3 linked regions of the Homo sapiens genome follow. The protein of the gene in region 2 interacts with the protein of the main gene of each other region in a biochemical or structural test. Each region holds a gene or a part of one and is shown on either strand. Other genes may lie near its edges.

Region 1 (7,112 bases), on a different chromosome or scaffold from region 2:
TTCTTGCGCTTCCTGCGGACATATGGGTGGCCAGGAAGGTGTTTATGCAACAGAGCCACTAGACACTGTTCTGTCTTCACCATGCAGCTTAGCACATGGCTGCCACGGCAGTTGTAAACCTCAGCATTGGTAAACACTTGCTTCATGTCAGTAAGAAACTCCTGCACAGAGCGGTAGCTCCCACAGGAACATTTGTTCTGCACTGTCTGAAAGTCCATGGGGTGCGTGATCACATCATAGTAGTCCTCGGCCTCATCTCTGGTCACAGGCTCCCTGTGGAGAAGAACCAAATGGAGAATCTGCACAGCCTTGACGGCAGTGCCCCTGCCACTGAGACACGTCCTGAAAAGCAAGGGCTTGGCTGAGAGCCCCTCAGGGGCTCTGGAAGCTTTTAGAACCAGCCAGGCCACTCCTCTCCCCTGCACCTGAGAACACAGCACTCACCTGAAGGGCCAGCTGAAGCGGTACTTCACGATCTTGTGGAGGATCTCTTCACACTTCTGCAGCTCCAGGCTTTGCCTCCGGGAGCTCCGCTTGGTCTGAAGCACCTGGCAGGAAAGAAAGAACAATGTTATTACAGATTCAAGACAGGAGGAAGAATGGACAGGGCAGAAAATAAGTGTATCTGCTCAAAAAAGGAAGAGAGTTCAACTATTTCCTTGGCGCAGAGGTGCTGAAACCTTCTGATATTCAAGTCAGGGAGCACCCTCGGCCCAGGTGGCAGGCATCTTCCCAGTAGTCCACTCACTCGCCTCCCCCGGGGCCACGGCAATCAAAGCAGCAAAGAGCAGGCAGCGGGGGCCGCCTTTACCAGCAGTCCTGCTGGAGGTCGGCTGAAGGGGGCTACTGTCAACAGGACACTAGCTCTCAGAGAACAGGTGGACCTGGGGTTACAGTGACACCATGGAAGGGCATCAACAAGCCACTGCAGAAAGCAAAACATGCTATCTGGGCCAACAGCAGCCAATTCTGTGGGGGTGGGGTGCCTCTGGTAAGAAAAGCAAGAGGTCCAATTCCCTTCCTGGGCTCTTCCACCGTAGACATGTGAGGGTTAAGTGGCTAAAGAGAAAAGGGGCGGGGCCTCCATTCCAGGTAGCCATAACAAAAGCTGTGATTCACAGCAGAGGCCACAGAGCCCAAGGCTGTGGCAAACCGAGCATCTTCTAATGCCTTATGATCTCCCAAATGGCCTGCCTTAAGCCCCTAACTCCAATTTGATCTGTCAAAACAAGCACCTTTTCAAGAGTTTCTTTTTTGTTCTTTAAAGCTCAAGTGAGATCTAAAAACTACTAAAATTACATTGGTTAAGGAGCAGAGGGGAGGGTAATGTCCCTCCCATAACAACTGTCGACTCAACAGTAAGTGAGGCTCCAGCATTGCTGACATTCCCACAATGAAGACCCAGCCCCTCTGAGCCCACTGGAGACACATGGATACTATTTTTAAATCCTTAATAAGTTGCAGGCTGCCCGCTAACTAGTTTGCAGGCTACAGCAGGGGAATGCCGGACATAGCTGTTCCTGGAGGCCTTGCTGCTTCTGTCTGCGTACAGGCTCACCCATCTGCCTCCCCAGCCTCCCAAGTTTGGTAAGAAGGAGGAGGGGGGAGGCTCCCCTCCCACCTGTTGCCTGATGAATTCCTAATTGCTGGGGTAGGGAATAAGAAACAGAAAGGTTAGAGAAGGGATGATAAATAATTCTCACCAGCTCATCCACCTCAGCATCATCCACAGGTGGTGCCTTGGGCTGAGACCTCCTGGTAGAGTGTGGCTTCTTACCCGGGCGCCGGCCTGACCTTGCTGCAGGGGGGATGACGCTGTGCTTGCCCCGGATGGTCTTTCGAGGTCTCACTGAAAGAAAAACTATGGATTCAGCAGAGAACAACGGAAGGTGAAGGGAGGAGCATCTTCGAAATGGGGGAAAGGGATGCAGGGAGAATCCTTTTCCTGGACAAGGAAAGCAGTGGCCTCCTTTGGTTTTAAGGTGCTCTTGCTATTTTATCTTGCCTTACCTAACAGGACACTAAAAGGCAGTGGCAGCCGATGAAGAATGGGTGCCTTTCATCCACTGCCAAAGCCCTTCAGAGGGCTAGGTCCTTCAGTACTTCTGTCCTGCCCCGTCCTGCAGTTACTCCCAGCCATAAGGCCCCTGCAGGAATCAACTGTAAACTCTCACTCATGAGAAGCCATTTGCTAATAGGTCAGCCTGGATTTCCCACAGCCCAAGCTCAGCCTGAGCGAGTGGATGTATTTACATGTAAGATGGAACTGGATTGTAAAACAAACCCTATGTTGTAATTCCCAGAGTTATTCTACACTTACCATCAGAATCTTTCCAGAGAAAAGCTGGTACTTCCATGAAGGGCCACAAGGCTCCTCATTAAATACAATTTAGGGCTAGTCCCCTCCATAAGAGCCCTGCCCAGGATCCCCAATGAGAGAATAAAGAATATAGGCCGGGCGTTGTGGCTCACACATGTAATCCCACCACTTTAGGAGGCTGAGGCAGGTGGATCACCTGAGGTCGGGAGTTCAAGACCAGCCTGACCAACATGGTGAAACCCCGTCTCTACTAAAAATACAAAATTAGCAGGGCGTGGTGGCACATGCTGGTAATCCCAGCTACTCAGGAGGCTGAGGCAGGAAAATCGCTTGAACCTGGGAGGCGGAGGTTGCAGTGAGCCGAGATCACGCCACTGCACTCCAGCCTGGGAAACAAGGGTGTAACTCCATCTCACAAAAGAAAAAAAACACACACACACACACACACAAAGGCACTGAGACTACTTGTGTCTCAGGTTTACAACAGGTGCTCACCATCAAGCCAACTGGCATTCCTCAGTGAGCCCTGGGAAACAATGCCATGAGGATTTAGCTCCAGGCTCTCCACCACCTTCCCTTGGGGAGTGGGGAGATGACACTGGACACAGAGGTCTAGGAAGGCAGTGACACGAATAATCCAGAAACACTACTTTCCATTCTATTTCTGGATCACGATAACCCTTTCTTGGCTACTTTAGCGTCTCTAGCTCAAGCCCAGGCTAGTAAGAAAGGGTAAGAATCTGATGCTTAGGTGCTAGAACCTTGAGCTGCACTGGGGAACCACATCTTTGGTGGTCTGAAAGATAGAGTTGACAAAAAGCTCTGAAGTACCAAATACTTCCCAGATCCTTTTGGCAAGTCGAGGCCGTAAAAACTTAGAAAAGCAATTCCTTGGAAAGAGAGCTACAACGTAGAAGTGGAAAGCAATCACTAGCTTACAAATAAACAGAATCAGTATACTACCATATTCAGGATCTGCCCTCAGAGAGATCAGGCGCAGTGGCTCACACTTGTAATCCCAGCACTTCGGGAGGCCAAGGCAGGAGGATCACTTGAACCCAAGAGTTCAAGACCAGCCTGGGAAACATGGCAAGACCCTATCTCTACAAAAAAGCCGGGCATGGTGGCACGTGCCTGTAGTCCCAGCTGCTCAGGAGGCTGAGGTAAGGAGGATTGCTTAAGCCTGAGAGATCGAGGATACAGTGAGCAGTGATCATACCAGTGCACTCTAGCCTGGGCAACAGAGAAAGATACCCATCCCCCGCTCCGCCAAAAAAAATATGTTCCCAAACAAAGGTGTGCCCAAGTCACTGACTCTGACCAACAGAAGAGGATATTCCTGAATGCAGGACTGATGGGCCATTTGTTCACTTACCCTAGGATACCTGAAAAATCAGGCGTAGTGAACAAACAAAAAGAGCCCATACGTATGTGAGAGCTTAAGGTGTCCCACATCACACCTCTGAAGTATGGGGGGGAAAGTGGGAGGACAGGAGAAGACGGGCAAGCCCAAATCATTAGGTTTTGGCAGTCTCACTACAGTAAGAGACTAGTCATGCCAGGCATCCTCTCTCTCACTCCTTATACCAAGTATGACCATTCAGAGCTGCTATGATCTTGGGAACTGTACCACTGCTTCAAAAGCTCATTAGAATTTTGATCTGTGGTCTGTTTTCTACGAACCTGTAAAGAAAAGTGTATTGGCCGGGCATAGTGGCTTATGCCTGTAATCCCAGCACTTTGGGAGGCCAAGGCAGGCAGATCACTTGAGCTCAGGAGTTCGAGACCAGCCTGGCCAACATGGTGAAACTCCATCTCTACTAAAAATACAAAAATCAGCCAGGTGTGGTGGTGGGTGTCTGTATACTCGGGAGGCTGAGGCAGAGACTGAGGTAATCTGAGGTCATACCACTGCACTCCAGCCCAGGCGACAGTGAGACCATCTCAAAAAAAAAAAAAAAAAAAAAAAAGTGTATTTTGGAAAGAGGGAGGCTGCTAAAAGAAAGGCTAGACTGGAGGACATTAGCCACAAACACCAGACTCTCCAACACTCATGAGAAATGAACATGAGAGAATGAGAGTCAATGCGGTGAACACAAAAGATGATGCCTTTTTTCCTACTGGCATCTAGTGAGAACAGATCTGAATCTTCCTAACATCCTTCCACCTAAGCCTTCAAATAATCAGTCGTCTCTTTTCAAACCAGCAAAGCTATAACCCTGCACACTGCAGGGAGGAGAAAATCACTGTAACCAGACAGAAAAAGTCACTCTCTGAAAGCAGCGATAAAACAACAGCCAAAAGAACTGTCAGGAGATGGCAATGGGCCAAGATCTTCCTTCCCCATTGTCCCCATATGCCGAGGAGCTGAGAATCAGCAGCCTTGGCATAAATATACTTGGGACCATGAATTCTACTAAATCTTAGAGCAAGTGGGTTGATGTTACTGAGATCAAGCCACCTTCTCTCCCACCAGGCAGGAAGTTAAACGCCATCTTGGAAACCCATTTAAACCCATGGCAGCTAAGTTACGCCACAGTCACAACACAAGAGAAAAGGAATAGGGCAAGCCGGCCACACTACCTACTGCCAAGCCAGCCTTTCCAAGCGTTCCAAGCTTAGAAGACTGTGAAATCAACTACAAAGGCAGACAAAATACTTACATCGCAAACCAGCCACCTCATAATCTTCTTCCTCCTCCTCCTCTTCTTCCTCCTCCTCCTCTTCATCACTCTCATCATCTTCACTGTCCTCAGAAGCAGACTCTTCAGTATAGTTCCTGTGGGTAGAAAAAATAATGTAGGGAACACAGTTTTAGCCCAAAGTGGTCCTAAGAAGGGCTCAAATCCCACAGGGATCAGGAAACTTCTCTTCACAGACTACATATGTATAACGTATGATAATTCAGGGAGGGAACCTGAATGTAAGCCAGGAGAGTTTTTCATAAAAATGAAAAACCAAGTTTCAACAGCATGCCTCATGCCTCCTTCTGCCAGGCCACAGACAGTTTGGACAAGATACCAAAGGCAACAGAAATTAAGACCAAAATGCAATCCTACCCTTCCCCACACAAAGCAATACAAAACACTGTTTCTTTTGTCTCACAAAAAGAGCCAGATAATGTAATACATCAGTTACTAAAAGCTGTCCCCACCTCTGAGGTAGACTGAAAAGAATAAACAGAGCCCAGACAGGTGTGACTTCACCTTGATGGCCCCCTTCCAGGAGCTGAAACAGCTTGCAGATGACCATAATATCAAAGCAGTGGTAATCCCAGCTCGGAACAGCTGGTCCAAAGCCCCACCATTTCAGAGCAACATGTCTCATCTCTAAGTGCAGCTGGGATGGAGTGCAAAAGAACCTGCTAATACTGTTAAGGTGGGGTCAGGATCAAACAGCTCTGCCCCTTAGAAGGAAGCCCAGGCCGGGCACCGTGGCTCACGCCTGTAATCCCAGCACTTTGGGAGGCTGAGGCAGGCGGATCACCTAAGGTCGGGAGTTCGAGACTAGCCTGACCAACATGGAGAAACCCCATCTCTACTAAAAATACAAAATGAGCTGGGTGTGGTGGCGCATGCTTGTAGTCCTAGCTACTCGGGAGGCTGAGGCAGCAGAATCGCTTGAACCTGGGAGGTGGAAGTTACAGTGAGCCGAGATCGCGCCATCGTACTCCAGCCTGGGCAACAAGAGCGAAACTCCGTCTCAAAAAAGAAGCCCAAGCCAGAGTACCTATAAGCTGCACATTTTACAACCCCAAATTTCAGTGTGGAAAACAACAGTATTATCTTGGCAAGTACAAGGTGTCTCCTCTTTACAAGGCCCGGTATTTGGCCTTATTGAGATTCAAGTAAAAAAACAAAGCACCACCTCTACTCTCAGGGCATTCATAATCTCATGGGAGACAGACATGTATAAAACCAGAGACAAGATCCATGCACCAAAATACTACTTCAGAGAATGGAGGTTCAGCTGAACACAGAGGAGAAACCATGAAGCCTAAGGATGCAAGCACTTTTCAAAAGCGCAGTGAAATTTTAGCGAAGCCATGGGCAGTTTACCCACTGGGAATTCTGGGCAGAGAATGTTCCCAGCTGGGAGAAAGGCACAAGAGGCAAGGATGAACAACAAACGGTCTGTAACAAGTACACAAATATGGGATCTAAAGCTAATAAAAACCCAAGCTGGTATTGTGTAAGAGTCTCAGAAGTGAGGCCAGGAATTGGGATGTTATTCTAGAGGCAATGGGAAGACTAGAAGTTTGTGATCAGGAATGTGAGCAGATCTTTGCTTTGTGTACAGCATTCTGGTGTTGCAATAGTTGGGTGGATAAGAGGGGAGAAGACGTGATATAAGAAAGAGGAGTTGAGAAGCCACCAAAGGAGCCCAGGTGACAGATGTAGAAGGGACAAATGATAGCGGAGACCACGGAGAATGGAGAGCAAGAAACTGGATCATCAAACATCTGGGCATTGGATTGATATCATGGCAAATTAATGGGTTTGTAGGATGAGGGAGAGATGTTCATTTCCAAGTTGACACCCAAGTTCTACTCATGATAGGGAAGAAAACATTATGTATCGGTAAGGAAGGTAATGAGTGTGAGATTTTTAGCAGTGGGTGATAGCAGAAGTAATCATGAAGACACAGGAAGTGGGCAACAGGAGGCTAAAGGCAGAGAGAGAGATTTCATTACTTGAGAAGAAGGTATGATCAAGAAGACAGAGAATGTGGCTGGCAGTGAAAACTAGAAATGTCAACATTCAGCTAAAATTAGCTCAGAGTCCTTTGAGCT
Region 2 (5,897 bases):
AGCACAGCCCCATGTGGGACGACCCGGGATCTCTCCACAACTTCCACCAGAACTACGTGGCCACTACGCACATGATCGAGCAGAGGAAAACGCCAGTCTCCCGCCTCTCCCTCTTCTCCTTTAAGCAATCGCCCCCTGGCACCCCGGTGTCTAGTTGCCAGATGCGCTTCGACGGGCCCCTGCACGTCCCCATGAACCCGGAGCCCGCCGGCAGCCACCACGTGGTGGACGGGCAGACCTTCGCTGTGCCCAACCCCATTCGCAAGCCCGCGTCCATGGGCTTCCCGGGCCTGCAGATCGGCCACGCGTCTCAGCTGCTCGACACGCAGGTGCCCTCACCGCCGTCGCGGGGCTCCCCCTCCAACGAGGGGCTGTGCGCTGTGTGTGGGGACAACGCGGCCTGCCAACACTACGGCGTGCGCACCTGTGAGGGCTGCAAAGGCTTCTTTAAGGTGAGCAATGGCGGGAGCGGAGTAGGCAGGTAGGGAGCCCCTAGTGCCCGGGACCTCGGAGTGTGCCCTCTGCCTTGGTGCCAGTAGCCCAGCCCCAGCTCTCCCGGGACTGCCCAGCTCTCCGGGGTCCGCCGAAGCTGCCCTGCAGGAGACCATGGGCTGCGGCGGGGACTTCCGGGTGTCTGAGAAAGGGAAGCAGAAAGACTGGGAGGCCAGGGTCGCATCCCCCTCGCATTCAGCCGACCCGGCTGGCCCCCGCCCGAAGTTGCTGGAGCCGGAGTTGGAAGAGGGTCATTTGCATGTGCTAGGAGCTGTCTTCCCTGTTCAGAATGAAATTGGTTAGGACAGAGAACCGTGTCTGAGCTAACCAAGTGGAACAGAATTCCCTATGGTCAAATTAAGTGATCTCTTTATTTCGCCATCCTGATTGAATAATCTTATCATTTTAAATAGAGAAGGTCTCCAAGGAATGTAAATAATATGAATGCCCACGGATTTGTATTTACTGAGCGTCTCCTTCTCCTTCTCTTGGCATATAAAACACAGCAAGGAGCGGCAAGGTTAGCTCAAATGTTAACGCTATCAATTTTCTTCTGTTAAATGCCCTGGGGGAGGAAAAAAGAAAAGAAAGAAAGAAAAGGAAGAGAAAAAAATAAAATGGAATTGTGTGTATGTGTTTGTTTGTGGGGAGGAATCGTAGACCCCAGTCACATAACAGAAATTTTCTCCGAGTTGCCTGATTTTCAAAAGAAGAAAAAAAATGTTGGTCTATATTGTCTCCTTTTGCAGCGCACAGTGCAAAAAAATGCAAAATACGTGTGTTTAGCAAATAAAAACTGCCCAGTGGACAAGCGTCGCCGGAATCGCTGTCAGTACTGCCGATTTCAGAAGTGCCTGGCTGTTGGGATGGTCAAAGAAGGTAGGCTGAGGGGAGCTGCCGACCCTCCAGTTTGCGCCTTTAGGAAACCACTGCTCATACTCCAGCATCACGTTCCACTTCCCGGTGCTGGGGATCTCCGACTCCCCCTCAGTATGGCCTCCAGGACCCTGCAGCTGCCTGCTTGCCCGGCCTTCCCTAGAGAAAGCCGCCAGGCCCTTCTCTCCTTTAACTATACGACCCATTTGGAGGAAGACATAAAATAACCCCGCATTTTTTAATGCTTCTAGTCAGTGAAGGCTTTACAAGCACTGGGGCCCTCAGCCGCTCAGCCTGGTGCCCCGCGGCTGCGGCCTTCCCCGGGGAGGGACCGAGGCAGCAGCTGGGCCTGGGCTCGGAAAAGCGGCGCTAACAGGGCTCTTCCTTTGCAGTGGTTCGCACAGACAGTTTAAAAGGCCGGAGAGGTCGTTTGCCCTCGAAACCGAAGAGCCCACAGGAGCCCTCTCCCCCTTCGCCCCCGGTGAGTCTGATCAGTGCCCTCGTCAGGGCCCATGTCGACTCCAACCCGGCTATGACCAGCCTGGACTATTCCAGGGTAAGAAGCTGGCGGGGGGGATATCATGTGGACAAACCGACAGATGGGCAGGACCCCTCCCCACATCCGTCATTAACTCTCAGATTCAACGGGGGTAAAGAAGGCAAGCAAGGCTGTATATGCCTCGCAGCTCTGGCCAGGGCCTCAAGATTCAGATCTTCAGACAATCCATGTAGCTGGGGGCATAGACATGAGGACAGGATGGAGGAAGGAGGAGAGGGACACGCCACAGGGTTTGAAGCTGTGTGAATTCCCACTACCCCACTACCCCATCGCCCCTCCTCTTCCATATACACCAGTGCCTCTACCATGAAATCCAGGGGCTGTGCAAACTCTCCCCCTTCCCAATCTACTTTATTCCCAGTCCTCCATAGAGATAGATGCTTTAATCCTCATCCTTCCTGGCACTGTGCTGGGGAAGGATGTGGGGGCCTGTCTGGGGGTCAGGGAAGGGAAGGAGAGGGTGTAAAGAATGCCAGTGGGGTGGGGGATCAAGTGGTCAGATCCTTTTTACTCCAGCTGTGAAAAATATGCGGGCTTTAATTGGAGGAAGTATGTTGAGCAAACCTGGTAGGGACTGCAATTTTATTAAGATTTGCAAAAGGGCGTCTCAGCTCGAGGCCCACTCTGGGACTAGCATGAATACTAACATGTCAATTGTTTTGTGGAGATAAGAGTGAACGTTTCCCAGGGCTGGATGGCACTGTATTTAGTCTGTATGGAAATGGCAATTTACATATTTAAAGCAGCGACCTCGTAGCACCATCCCTAATTGAATTAATTGCCCCGGAACATCTAATTTCCTTACTGGTCAGAGAGAGGTTTAATTGTTATAAAAACCTGGCTCCCCTATTAGAAACGGGGTTAGCAATTTCACGGGTTATATATTTTAGAGAACCTCATTAAGTGCTTTTTAAAATGAAATTCCAGTTCCAGGCGAACCCTGACTATCAAATGAGTGGAGATGACACCCAGCATATCCAGCAATTCTATGATCTCCTGACTGGCTCCATGGAGATCATCCGGGGCTGGGCAGAGAAGATCCCTGGCTTCGCAGACCTGCCCAAAGCCGACCAAGACCTGCTTTTTGAATCAGCTTTCTTAGAACTGTTTGTCCTTCGATTAGCATACAGGTAATAAGGGAGGGAGGGAGACAATCCAGGGAGGCTGTGAGAGAAATCAAGAAAGGAAAAGAAAGGGAGGAAGGGAAACCAGAGGGTGGGGTAGAGAAAAAGACAGAATAGGAAATGGAAGTCGGAGAAAGGAAGAAAAAGAAAGAAAACAAAAAAAGACGAGAAGAAGCGAGCCCAGAAGCCTTGGATGAATGGAATGGAGGTGGGATAGGGGGCGTTCTTGATTGTTATGAAATTAAACCCTTTCAAGGTCCACTGGTCTACATTTTATTAACTCTTCAGTAATTAGGTGACTCTTAAATCCCTCATTTATTGCTCTTCAAGTAATTAGTTGTTTAGCTTTTCTCTCTCTCTTTTTCTCCCCTCTCTCTCTTTGGTATTAATTGCAGGTCCAACCCAGTGGAGGGTAAACTCATCTTTTGCAATGGGGTGGTCTTGCACAGGTTGCAATGCGTTCGTGGCTTTGGGGAATGGATTGATTCCATTGTTGAATTCTCCTCCAACTTGCAGAATATGAACATCGACATTTCTGCCTTCTCCTGCATTGCTGCCCTGGCTATGGTCACAGGTCAGTACTGCAGGCGCAGGGCGCTTCCCCTCCAGAACTGCCTAGCAGGATTTGTCCTGAGTTTCCCTTGTCACAGATTCTCCTTGGTTTTGCCAACTAGCTAACTGTCTTGTACATTCTTCTTTTGTTTCTGATTATGTTTTCTGCAGAGAGACACGGGCTCAAGGAACCCAAGAGAGTGGAAGAACTGCAAAACAAGATTGTAAATTGTCTCAAAGACCACGTGACTTTCAACAATGGGGGGTTGAACCGCCCCAATTATTTGTCCAAACTGTTGGGGAAGCTCCCAGAACTTCGTACCCTTTGCACACAGGGGCTACAGCGCATTTTCTACCTGAAATTGGAAGACTTGGTGCCACCGCCAGCAATAATTGACAAACTTTTCCTGGACACTTTACCTTTCTAAGACCTCCTCCCAAGCACTTCAAAGGAACTGGAATGATAATGGAAACTGTCAAGAGGGGGCAAGTCACATGGGCAGAGATAGCCGTGTGAGCAGTCTCAGCTCAAGCTGCCCCCCATTTCTGTAACCCTCCTAGCCCCCTTGATCCCTAAAGAAAACAAACAAACAAACAAAAACTGTTGCTATTTCCTAACCTGCAGGCAGAACCTGAAAGGGCATTTTGGCTCCGGGGCATCCTGGATTTAGAACATGGACTACACACAATACAGTGGTATAAACTTTTTATTCTCAGTTTAAAAATCAGTTTGTTGTTCAGAAGAAAGATTGCTATAATGTATAATGGGAAATGTTTGGCCATGCTTGGTTGTTGCAGTTCAGACAAATGTAACACACACACACATACACACACACACACACACACAGAGACACATCTTAAGGGGACCCACAAGTATTGCCCTTTAACAAGACTTCAAAGTTTTCTGCTGTAAAGAAAGCTGTAATATATAGTAAAACTAAATGTTGCGTGGGTGGCATGAGTTGAAGAAGGCAAAGGCTTGTAAATTTACCCAATGCAGTTTGGCTTTTTAAATTATTTTGTGCCTATTTATGAATAAATATTACAAATTCTAAAAGATAAGTGTGTTTGCAAAAAAAAAGAAAATAAATACATAAAAAAGGGACAAGCATGTTGATTCTAGGTTGAAAATGTTATAGGCACTTGCTACTTCAGTAATGTCTATATTATATAAATAGTATTTCAGACACTATGTAGTCTGTTAGATTTTATAAAGATTGGTAGTTATCTGAGCTTAAACATTTTCTCAATTGTAAAATAGGTGGGCACAAGTATTACACATCAGAAAATCCTGACAAAAGGGACACATAGTGTTTGTAACACCGTCCAACATTCCTTGTTTGTAAGTGTTGTATGTACCGTTGATGTTGATAAAAAGAAAGTTTATATCTTGATTATTTTGTTGTCTAAAGCTAAACAAAACTTGCATGCAGCAGCTTTTGACTGTTTCCAGAGTGCTTATAATATACATAACTCCCTGGAAATAACTGAGCACTTTGAATTTTTTTTATGTCTAAAATTGTCAGTTAATTTATTATTTTGTTTGAGTAAGAATTTTAATATTGCCATATTCTGTAGTATTTTTCTTTGTATATTTCTAGTATGGCACATGATATGAGTCACTGCCTTTTTTTCTATGGTGTATGACAGTTAGAGATGCTGATTTTTTTTCTGATAAATTCTTTCTTTGAGAAAGACAATTTTAATGTTTACAACAATAAACCATGTAAATGAACAGAATTTTGTCTTCTTTTTGGGTCAGAAAAAATAATGACTAAACAGCAACATAACATACACAGTTGGAGATTAATTTGGGATAGGTCACTTATTCAATATCTGAATTTTAAACAGCCTAAATCTATTCTGGCAAAAGAAATCAGGTGAACCAGAATAATTATGCAGATAATTCAGTAAAATATTTTTTCTTAACCAGAATTTTCCAGTCTGGTGACCAATATTTATTAGGATCAATTTAGAATATCTCAATTCTTCTGTTAACTTTGCAAGTAAGTGTAGCTTTCAGGAGAGAAGTTCTGGAGACCCAAAAGCTTTTGAACTTGAGCAAGGTCAGAGTCTAGTCAAGTACTTGTCTTGCACAGTGATTAGGAAGTATCTTTTTAAGACTCAAGAAGTCAACATGGATTTGAGGAGTGTTGTATGTAATCTCCGATTTTCCAATTTCTCAATTTACAACTGTTGGGTCATGGAGAAAGGGCAAAGCAGTTCAGGCCCTTTGGGCCTTGGGTCACTTTGGCACAGAGCAGAACTCAGTAGAGGTAGTTCTTACAACTCTT
Region 3 (7,635 bases), on a different chromosome or scaffold from region 2:
GACACTATTAAGAAAGTGAAAGAGAACCTATAGAATGGGAGGAAATATCTACAAACCATATATCAAATAAGGAACTAATATCCAGAATATATAAGAACTATTACAACTCAACAACAAAAAGCCAAACAACCTAATTAAAAAATGGGTAAGGATATGCAGAAGATTGAGACTGGATCCCTGCTTCCTTACAACATATACAAAAATCAACTCAAGATGGATTAAAGACTTAAATGTAAAACCCAAAACTATAAAAACCCTGGAAGACAACCTAGACAACACCATCCTGGACATAGAAATGGGCACAGGTGTCATGACAAAGACACCAAAAGCAATTGCATCAAGAGCAAAAATTGACAAACGAGATTTAATTAAACATAGGAGCTTGTGTATGGCAAAAGAAACTATCAACAGAATAAACAGACAACCTACAGAATGGGAGAAAATATTAGCAAACTATGCATCTGACAAAGGTCTAATATCGAGCAAGTATAAGGGACTTAAACAAATTTGCAAGAGGAAAAACAACCCCATTAAAAAGTGGGCAAAGGACATGAACAGACACTTCAAAAGAAGACATACATGCAAGCTCAATATCACTGTGGAAAGCAGTGTGTCGATTCCCGTAAGAGTTAAAAACAGAACTACCATTTGACCCAGCAATTCCATTACTGGGTATACACCCAGAGGAATGTAAATCATTCTACCATAAAGGCATATACACACGAATGTTCACTGCAGCACTATTCACAATAGCAAAGACATGGAATCAACCTAAATGTCCATCAATGACAGATTGGATAAAGAAAATATAGTACATATACATCACGGAATACTATGCAACCATAAAAAAAGAACAAGATCATGTATTTTGCAGGAATATGGATGGAGCTGGAGGCTATTATCCTCAGCAAACTAATGCAGGAACAGAAAACCAAATACCAGATGTTCTCACTTACAAGTGGGAGCTAAATGATGAGAACTCCTGAACACAAAGAAGGGAACAATAGATATTGGGACCTACTTGAGGGTGGAGGATGGGAGGAGGATGAGGATTAAAAAACTACATATTAGGTACTATGATTATTATTTGGCTGATGAAATAAAGTGTATACCAAGCCCCTGTGACATGCAATTTACCTATGAAACAAACCTGCACATGTGTCCCCAAACCTAACATAAAATTTAAAAAATAAAAAATAAAAATTGGCAAAGCACTTGAATAGATATTTCTCCAAAGGAAATATACGAATATCCAACAAACCCAAGAAAAGATACTCAACATCATGGGTCATTAAGAAAATGCAAATCAAAACCACTTCTCTCCCACTAGGATGATAAACATAAAAAATAGAAATTAACAATTGTTTGCAAGGATATGGTAAAATTGGAGTCTTGCTGATAGGAATGCAAAATGTTGCAGTTACTGTGGAACACAGTTTGGCGGTTTCTCAAAAATTTAAACATAGAATTACCATATGACCCAATGATTACACTCCTAGCTATATATGCAAGAGAAGTAAAGACATACACCCACACAAAAACTTATACATAATTGTTTATGGTAGCATTATTTATAACAGCCAAAAGGCAAAAACAATCCAAATATCTATCAACATACAAATGGATAAACAGAGTGTGGTATGCACATAAAATGAAATATTAATTCATAAAAAGGAATGAAGTATTGCACATGCTACAATGTAGATGAACCTTGAAAACATTATGCTAAGTGAAAGAAGCCAGACACAAAAGGTCACATATTGTACAATTCCATTTATGGGAAATATCTAGAATAGGTAAGTTCATAAAGATGGAAAGCAGATAAGTCATTGCTAGGGACTAGGGGGAAAAGGGAATTGAGAATGACTGCTTAATGGGTATGGGGTCTCTTTTCAGATTGATGAAACTGTTTTGGAACTAAATAGAGGGGATGGTTACACAATATTTTGAGTGTACTATACATGTCACTGAACTGTACACTTTAAAATGGTTAATTCTATGTTATGTGAATTTCTCTTTTAAATAGAGAATAAAGATAGCACGATTTGAAAAAAATGTATACAGAAGTATATTCTTTGGGTCAATGGCCTTCATCTTTTTAATATTACATACCCCTTTGAACATCTAATGAGAGCAACGGAACCTATTCTCAGCAAATGTGCACATACAATAAAAATGTATATATCCAGCCTGGGTGCGGCAGCTCATGCCTGTAATCCCAGTGCTTCGGGAGGCTGAGGCAGGGGGCTCACTTGAGGTCAAGAATTGGAGACCAACCTGGGCAATGTAGGGAGACACTGTCTGTACAAAAATTTAAAGAAATTAGCTGGGAGTTGTGGCGTGCACCAGTAGTCCCAGTTACTCAGAAGGCTGAGGTGAGAAGATCCCTTTAGCCCAGGAGTTGAAGGCTACAGTGAACTATAAATGCACCACTGGACTCTAGTCTGGACAACAGAGTGAAACCACGACCACACACACACACACACACACACACACACACACAAGTTTGAACATAATTTTAGGGGATTCATAGTTTAATAATGCCTGAACCCAAGGAATAGATGAGCTCTCTTTAACATGGCTCAGCTGCTATTTGTGTCTTCCCCTTCTTATCTCTTTGTCAAGTAGCTTCTTCTTTCTGTCCTTTATGGTTTCCTCTTTTTCATGATGTCAACTTGCTTATATAAAATAAAAACATACATCCACACAAAAACTTATACGTGATTGTATATGGCAGCATTATTTATAACAGCTAAAAGATGAAAATGCCTAAATATTCATCAACATATGATGGATAAACAGAATGGGGTGTGCAAATAGAACAAAACACTATTCAGGCTCCTAGGGTACAGATCTTCTTCTCACAAGAGTGTGCATACTCCACTACTTCCTAAACATATGCAATTTTACATGCCCTTTCAGGTGGCCCACAGACTTCATCAATTGGGAATACTTGGTCTAGGTCAATATGGACAGCATGGCAGAACTCCTTAGACACTGGCCTAAATTTGCTGAGACAGTCATAGGTTAGTATGGACTGGCAGGCAGCAATCCTGCAGCAAGGTTAGGCTCCCTCTGGGTTCCCTGAAGATACAGAGTTTGGGGGTGAGAGGCCCGCCAGACTGCACTTTTTAGGCTAGGCGGGAGGTAACAGACAGGGTCTAGGGAGGCTTCCACTCAGGCACTGTGAATAAGGGCAGAGAGCAGGCAGGTTGCAGGGGACTCTACCCCAGCAATCACTTCAGGCCTCATGAACACCCTCAGCTGCAAGGGTCTAGAAGAGATCTGTTCTAGTTTTCTAGAGGCATGAACAATGCTCCACTCTGTGCTGGGGCTGGGTTATCCCTGTGGGAATTAGGGGGAGGGAGGAGGGAAGGAGCCAAAGGCATTTACTCATATCACCACCTTGGTCACCTGTCCAGTTATATTCTTGGACAGATGACTCTTGAGCAACAGAGTCATGTGCCTGGGGATGAGAAATGCAGGGGATGAGAAATTCTAGAATATGAGGGGGTGGAGAAGAACACCTTCCCCTGATCTTGGCAGGGCAGGGAGGATAGGACCATTTCTGCATCCTTCACATCTCCTGCAGCCTTGGTCTCACAGCTCTTCCCTTCCCCTAGAGCTAAACATTTGAATGAAAATAGCCATGAGCCAAATTTTTTAAAGAGACATTTTTGAATTTTCTTTCAACCATCAGATTCCAGCAAGTCTATTTAGCACTCAGTAATCGTTTGGGAACATTAAATGTGTGTGTGTGTGTGTGTGTGTGTGTGTGTGTGTGTGTGTGTGTGTGTTAAATAGAACGTGAGAGAACCAGCTATTTATGAAAAATTTCTAATGTATATTTTGCTTGTTGCCAATTGAATTCCTTGTGTATATGGCAAAAGTTAATATTATGAACCTAATTTGGTCTCTCTTCTGAGTAGAAAATTTTGAAATCTTTTAAGTTTTTCTCTCTCTTAAACACTTTCTCATAAATGAAATAGCTTTATTTAATTTTGTGCTTATAAGAATAACCCATGCTGAGGAGAGTGAATTAAATAAGATCAAAAAAATTTAAAAAAATAAAACCCCTATTTTAACTACTTGTGTCCCTACTTGACAATCCACCTTGTACCCATTATGAGAAGGTCTGGTTCACAGGCAGAATGAACATCAGTGGCTGCGTGTAGAATTAGATCGAGTAGGTGCCTTCGGATAAAAGGAGAGAAAGAAAAAAAATTCCTCTGAGATGTACCAATGGCCAATAGCTCTAGAAGAAGGTGCGGTCCCTCCCTGATAACCACGGAAGAATAAATACATACTACACAGAGAAAGGGCCACATTTGACCTGTGGGATTAGCAAAGACCAAAATGAGTGACAGGGCCCCGTGCTGTGGGGCGAGAGAGAGAGCTAAGCCGGGGTTGGGGGTGCTGAGGGCGCTCAGACGGACAGACTAGTGAAGGGAAGAAGTGGGCTGGCTCCTGACGCACTTTCTGCGGGTGGGAGGGGAACTAGGGACCCGAGCCCACTGGTGACGTTTTTCTCACGTGATCTGAAGCCGACGTGTGCAGAAGTCCCTCTCCTCCAGGTACCAGATCCCTGTTTCCGTGGAGGAAGGCAGACTTCAGACTGAAGGACAGAGAAGGCAACTGCCCTACAGCCCTGCAGGTCGGTACAAGCCGGGGACCCCTGAGGTAGGGATGGTAATGCACATAGGCTACAGAGGATCGGATCTGCTTTCTAGATACCGCCCTGTTCCACCCCCATTCATTTTGGCGCAGAAATTTTTTTGTGTTGGGCAAGAGGTATGGGTACCAGCTTTTATTTCCCTGGAGAAGTGCAGGCTTCTGGCAGAAGGAAATGTGAGAAAGAGTCATTTCCCCGAGATGGCTACGAACCCATCCACAGCCTGTGGATCCCTGTGGTTGGGATGGCAGAGGGCAAAGACCAGAGCGGGTCCAGGACTGGATTCTCTCCACTCCTTTCCCGATGCTCACTCATTTGGTGCAAGAAATGGAGGGCTTGGTGCGGGGCGGGGAGGGGGGAGGGGGGCGGAACTCGAGAGAGGTCAAGGGTTGAGAATTGGGTACCAGTTGGGAACTCCTAGGAAGCCGGCGACCGGGTGATGTCTGATGGAGGAGGAGGAGGACCAGGGAAGAGAACAGCGACGAAACGGCGAGAAAACGGCCTGATCCCTGCAAGGCAGCGGGAGGCGGGCACAGTCAGTGACCCCAGGCTGCTGAGGGCGGACCCTGCAACGGGTCCAGGCCTGAGTTCCCTGTGTCTTTTCTCCAACCTCCCTCCATTTTGGAGCCGGAAACGGTGGGCTAAGGGGGTCAGGGGAAGGAGGTGCTGTAGAAAAAGGGAGACAGAGGTTTGATCTGGGGATCAGCTCCCTATCCAGGAGGAGTGGCTTCTGAAGTAGGAGGATTGAGATGAGGTAGCAGCAAGACCAAAAATGTTACCGGGTTTGGAAATAATTTGTCTCTTGCATTGCAGAAAAATGTGGGCTTTCTGTGTATGTGGGGAGGGAGGAGGTGGCAGGAGTGTTTTGGACATTTCTGCCCTGCCCCCTATCTCTGTCATCACCATTTTCAGAGAAGTGGTGGGCTCTGCTATTTGGCTACCCTAGGGTGAGGGATTTGGAATGTAGAGATCTGAGTGCATCAGAACACTCTGTCTTCAGAACATCCTTGTCTCTAACCCTACTCATTTTCGTGCCAGAAAAGTGAGATAAAAATTTGGGAGGAAGATTCAGAAACATAGAAACGCTTTGGAAATAATCTTTCTCGCCTATTTCCCACAAGTAGAACAATGGAGGCTCTTAAGAAAGAGCTGCGCGCGGAGGGGGAATCAGAGAATGCAAGGGAAAAGGCGAGGAGGTGATAGGAGCTCGGAAAGTTTTGACAAATACGGTCCCAAAGAACCAGTGTCCAAGTTACCAGTCATTCACTTTCTCAATTTCTCATTCACCCACCTGTTTCTTGTCTTTCTGCAGGTCTTCAAGTCTGTGGTTGTGGGCACTAACCCAGACAAGAAAAGGAAAGACCTGCAGTATCGGTGCAGGTCAGTGGGAGAGGGCTACTGCACCAGGACCCTTGGGAGTAGGAGTAACTTAAGCCAGAGCAGAAGTTGGGGAGGCCACTGCCTGCCACCCCTCCTCCAATCCTCCCTCTTGCAGTTTCGGGATACATGACTGCTGTCAAGACCCTAAGGGGATATGGTGATCTATGGCTGGTGAGGATAGAGGGGAGAATAAGAAAGTAAGAGAATGGAGGTGTAGCATCTGTGATGCCCCCTGAGGACATAAGGGTAGCCCTGAAATCTGAGAACTGGCTATGGTTCTGTTCTGTCTGCAGTTTTATAAGTCTTACAACTGCATGCAAGGGGAAAAAGAAGAAAACTGCCCAGGATTTCTGCAGGTCCGTGTAAATTGGAACTACCCAGTTAAAATTGGTATGGGTAGGCATAGCCAAGGCCAGAGCAAAGTTTAAGGGCCAATATGCTCCTACGCATTTCTCAGCACATCCTCCTTAAATGTAGGGAGAAGCACCTGTGGAAGTTTCTGTAAGGTTGGCTTGTGTGAACATGTGTAAAGTGAAAAGGAAAGGAAGGAATGTAAGGGTGGGAGTGCACCTGGAAGATGGGATAGGGCCAGGAAAACCCTAAGTTAAGAAAGACAAGTACTATAAGGACCTGTGTTCAACCCCCAAAGCCCTCAGTGTCCTGTGTCTTCTTTTTGTCTCCTAGGAAAGGCAAAGAAGGGAACATCTCAACATGGAAAAGCTCTACAAAGAAAATGAAGGAAAGCCAGAGAATGAAAGAAACCTAGAAAGTGAGGGAAAGCCAGAGGATGAGGGAAGTACAGAAGATGAAGGAAAGTCAGACGAGGAAGAAAAGCCGGACATGGAGGGGAAGACAGAATGCGAGGGAAAGCGAGAGGATGAGGGAGAGCCAGGTGATGAGGGACAACTGGAAGATGAGGGAAACCAGGAAAAGCAGGGCAAGTCTGAAGGTGAGGACAAGCCACAAAGTGAGGGCAAGCCAGCCTCCCAGGCCAAGCCAGAGAGCCAGCCGCGGGCCGCCGAAAAGCGCCCGGCTGAAGATTATGTGCCCCGGAAAGCAAAAAGAAAAACCGACAGGGGGACGGACGATTCCCCCAAGGACTCTCAGGAGGACTTACAAGAAAGGCATCTGAGCAGTGAGGAGATGATGAGAGAATGTGGAGATGTGTCAAGGGCTCAGGAGGAGCTAAGGAAAAAACAGAAAATGGGTGGTTTTCATTGGATGCAAAGAGATGTACAGGATCCATTCGCCCCAAGGGGCCAACGGGGTGTGAGGGGAGTGAGGGGCGGAGGTAGGGGCCAGAAAGACTTAGAAGATGTCCCATATGTTTAATGTCTTTGGCCTTTAATTCTGATTTCTCTGATGGGAATATTGCCAGTCCTGCTTTTCCTGGCAGGCATTTGCCGGCCTATGTGCTTTAACCTTAAGCTGATACTTTCCTTTAGGTGTCACTCTTGTTACCAGCAGACTTTTGACCCAACTACAGTGCTCTGTCTTTTAGTAGAGGATTTTCACCCATGTGCATGGAATAAATGTTCATGGTACATTGTAAAATAACAATAAAAAAGAGTTTTCAGAACCAT

Evidence for each region.
Region 1: the proteins of NR4A2 (region 2) and BAZ1B form a complex in vitro, tested with the Homo sapiens proteins (one study listed by BioGRID).
Region 3: the proteins of NR4A2 (region 2) and TCEAL5 form a complex in vitro, tested with the Homo sapiens proteins (one study listed by BioGRID).

What each region holds. Positions count from the first base shown.
Region 1 is NC_000007.14:73,442,281-73,449,392, forward strand, and holds part of BAZ1B (tyrosine-protein kinase BAZ1B), read right to left. Parts: intron 5,100-7,112; coding exon 4,984-5,099; intron 1,850-4,983; coding exon 1,704-1,849; intron 549-1,703; coding exon 445-548; intron 274-444; coding exon 1-273. UniProt on the Homo sapiens protein: Atypical tyrosine-protein kinase that plays a central role in chromatin remodeling and acts as a transcription regulator. Involved in DNA damage response by phosphorylating 'Tyr-142' of histone H2AX (H2AXY142ph).
Region 2 is NC_000002.12:156,323,878-156,329,774, reverse strand, and holds the end of NR4A2 (nuclear receptor subfamily 4 group A member 2), read left to right. Parts: coding exon 1-452; intron 453-1,241; coding exon 1,242-1,371; intron 1,372-1,760; coding exon 1,761-1,924; intron 1,925-2,854; coding exon 2,855-3,057; intron 3,058-3,446; coding exon 3,447-3,625; exon of another isoform or gene 3,626-3,628; intron 3,629-3,774; coding exon 3,775-4,031; 3' UTR 4,032-5,338; downstream 5,339-5,897. UniProt on the Homo sapiens protein: Transcriptional regulator which is important for the differentiation and maintenance of meso-diencephalic dopaminergic (mdDA) neurons during development.
Region 3 is NC_000023.11:103,273,692-103,281,326, reverse strand, and holds the start of TCEAL5 (transcription elongation factor A protein-like 5), read left to right. Parts: upstream 1-4,576; 5' UTR 4,577-4,654; intron 4,655-5,984; 5' UTR 5,985-6,052; intron 6,053-6,736; 5' UTR 6,737-6,763; coding exon 6,764-7,384; 3' UTR 7,385-7,635. UniProt on the Homo sapiens protein: May be involved in transcriptional regulation.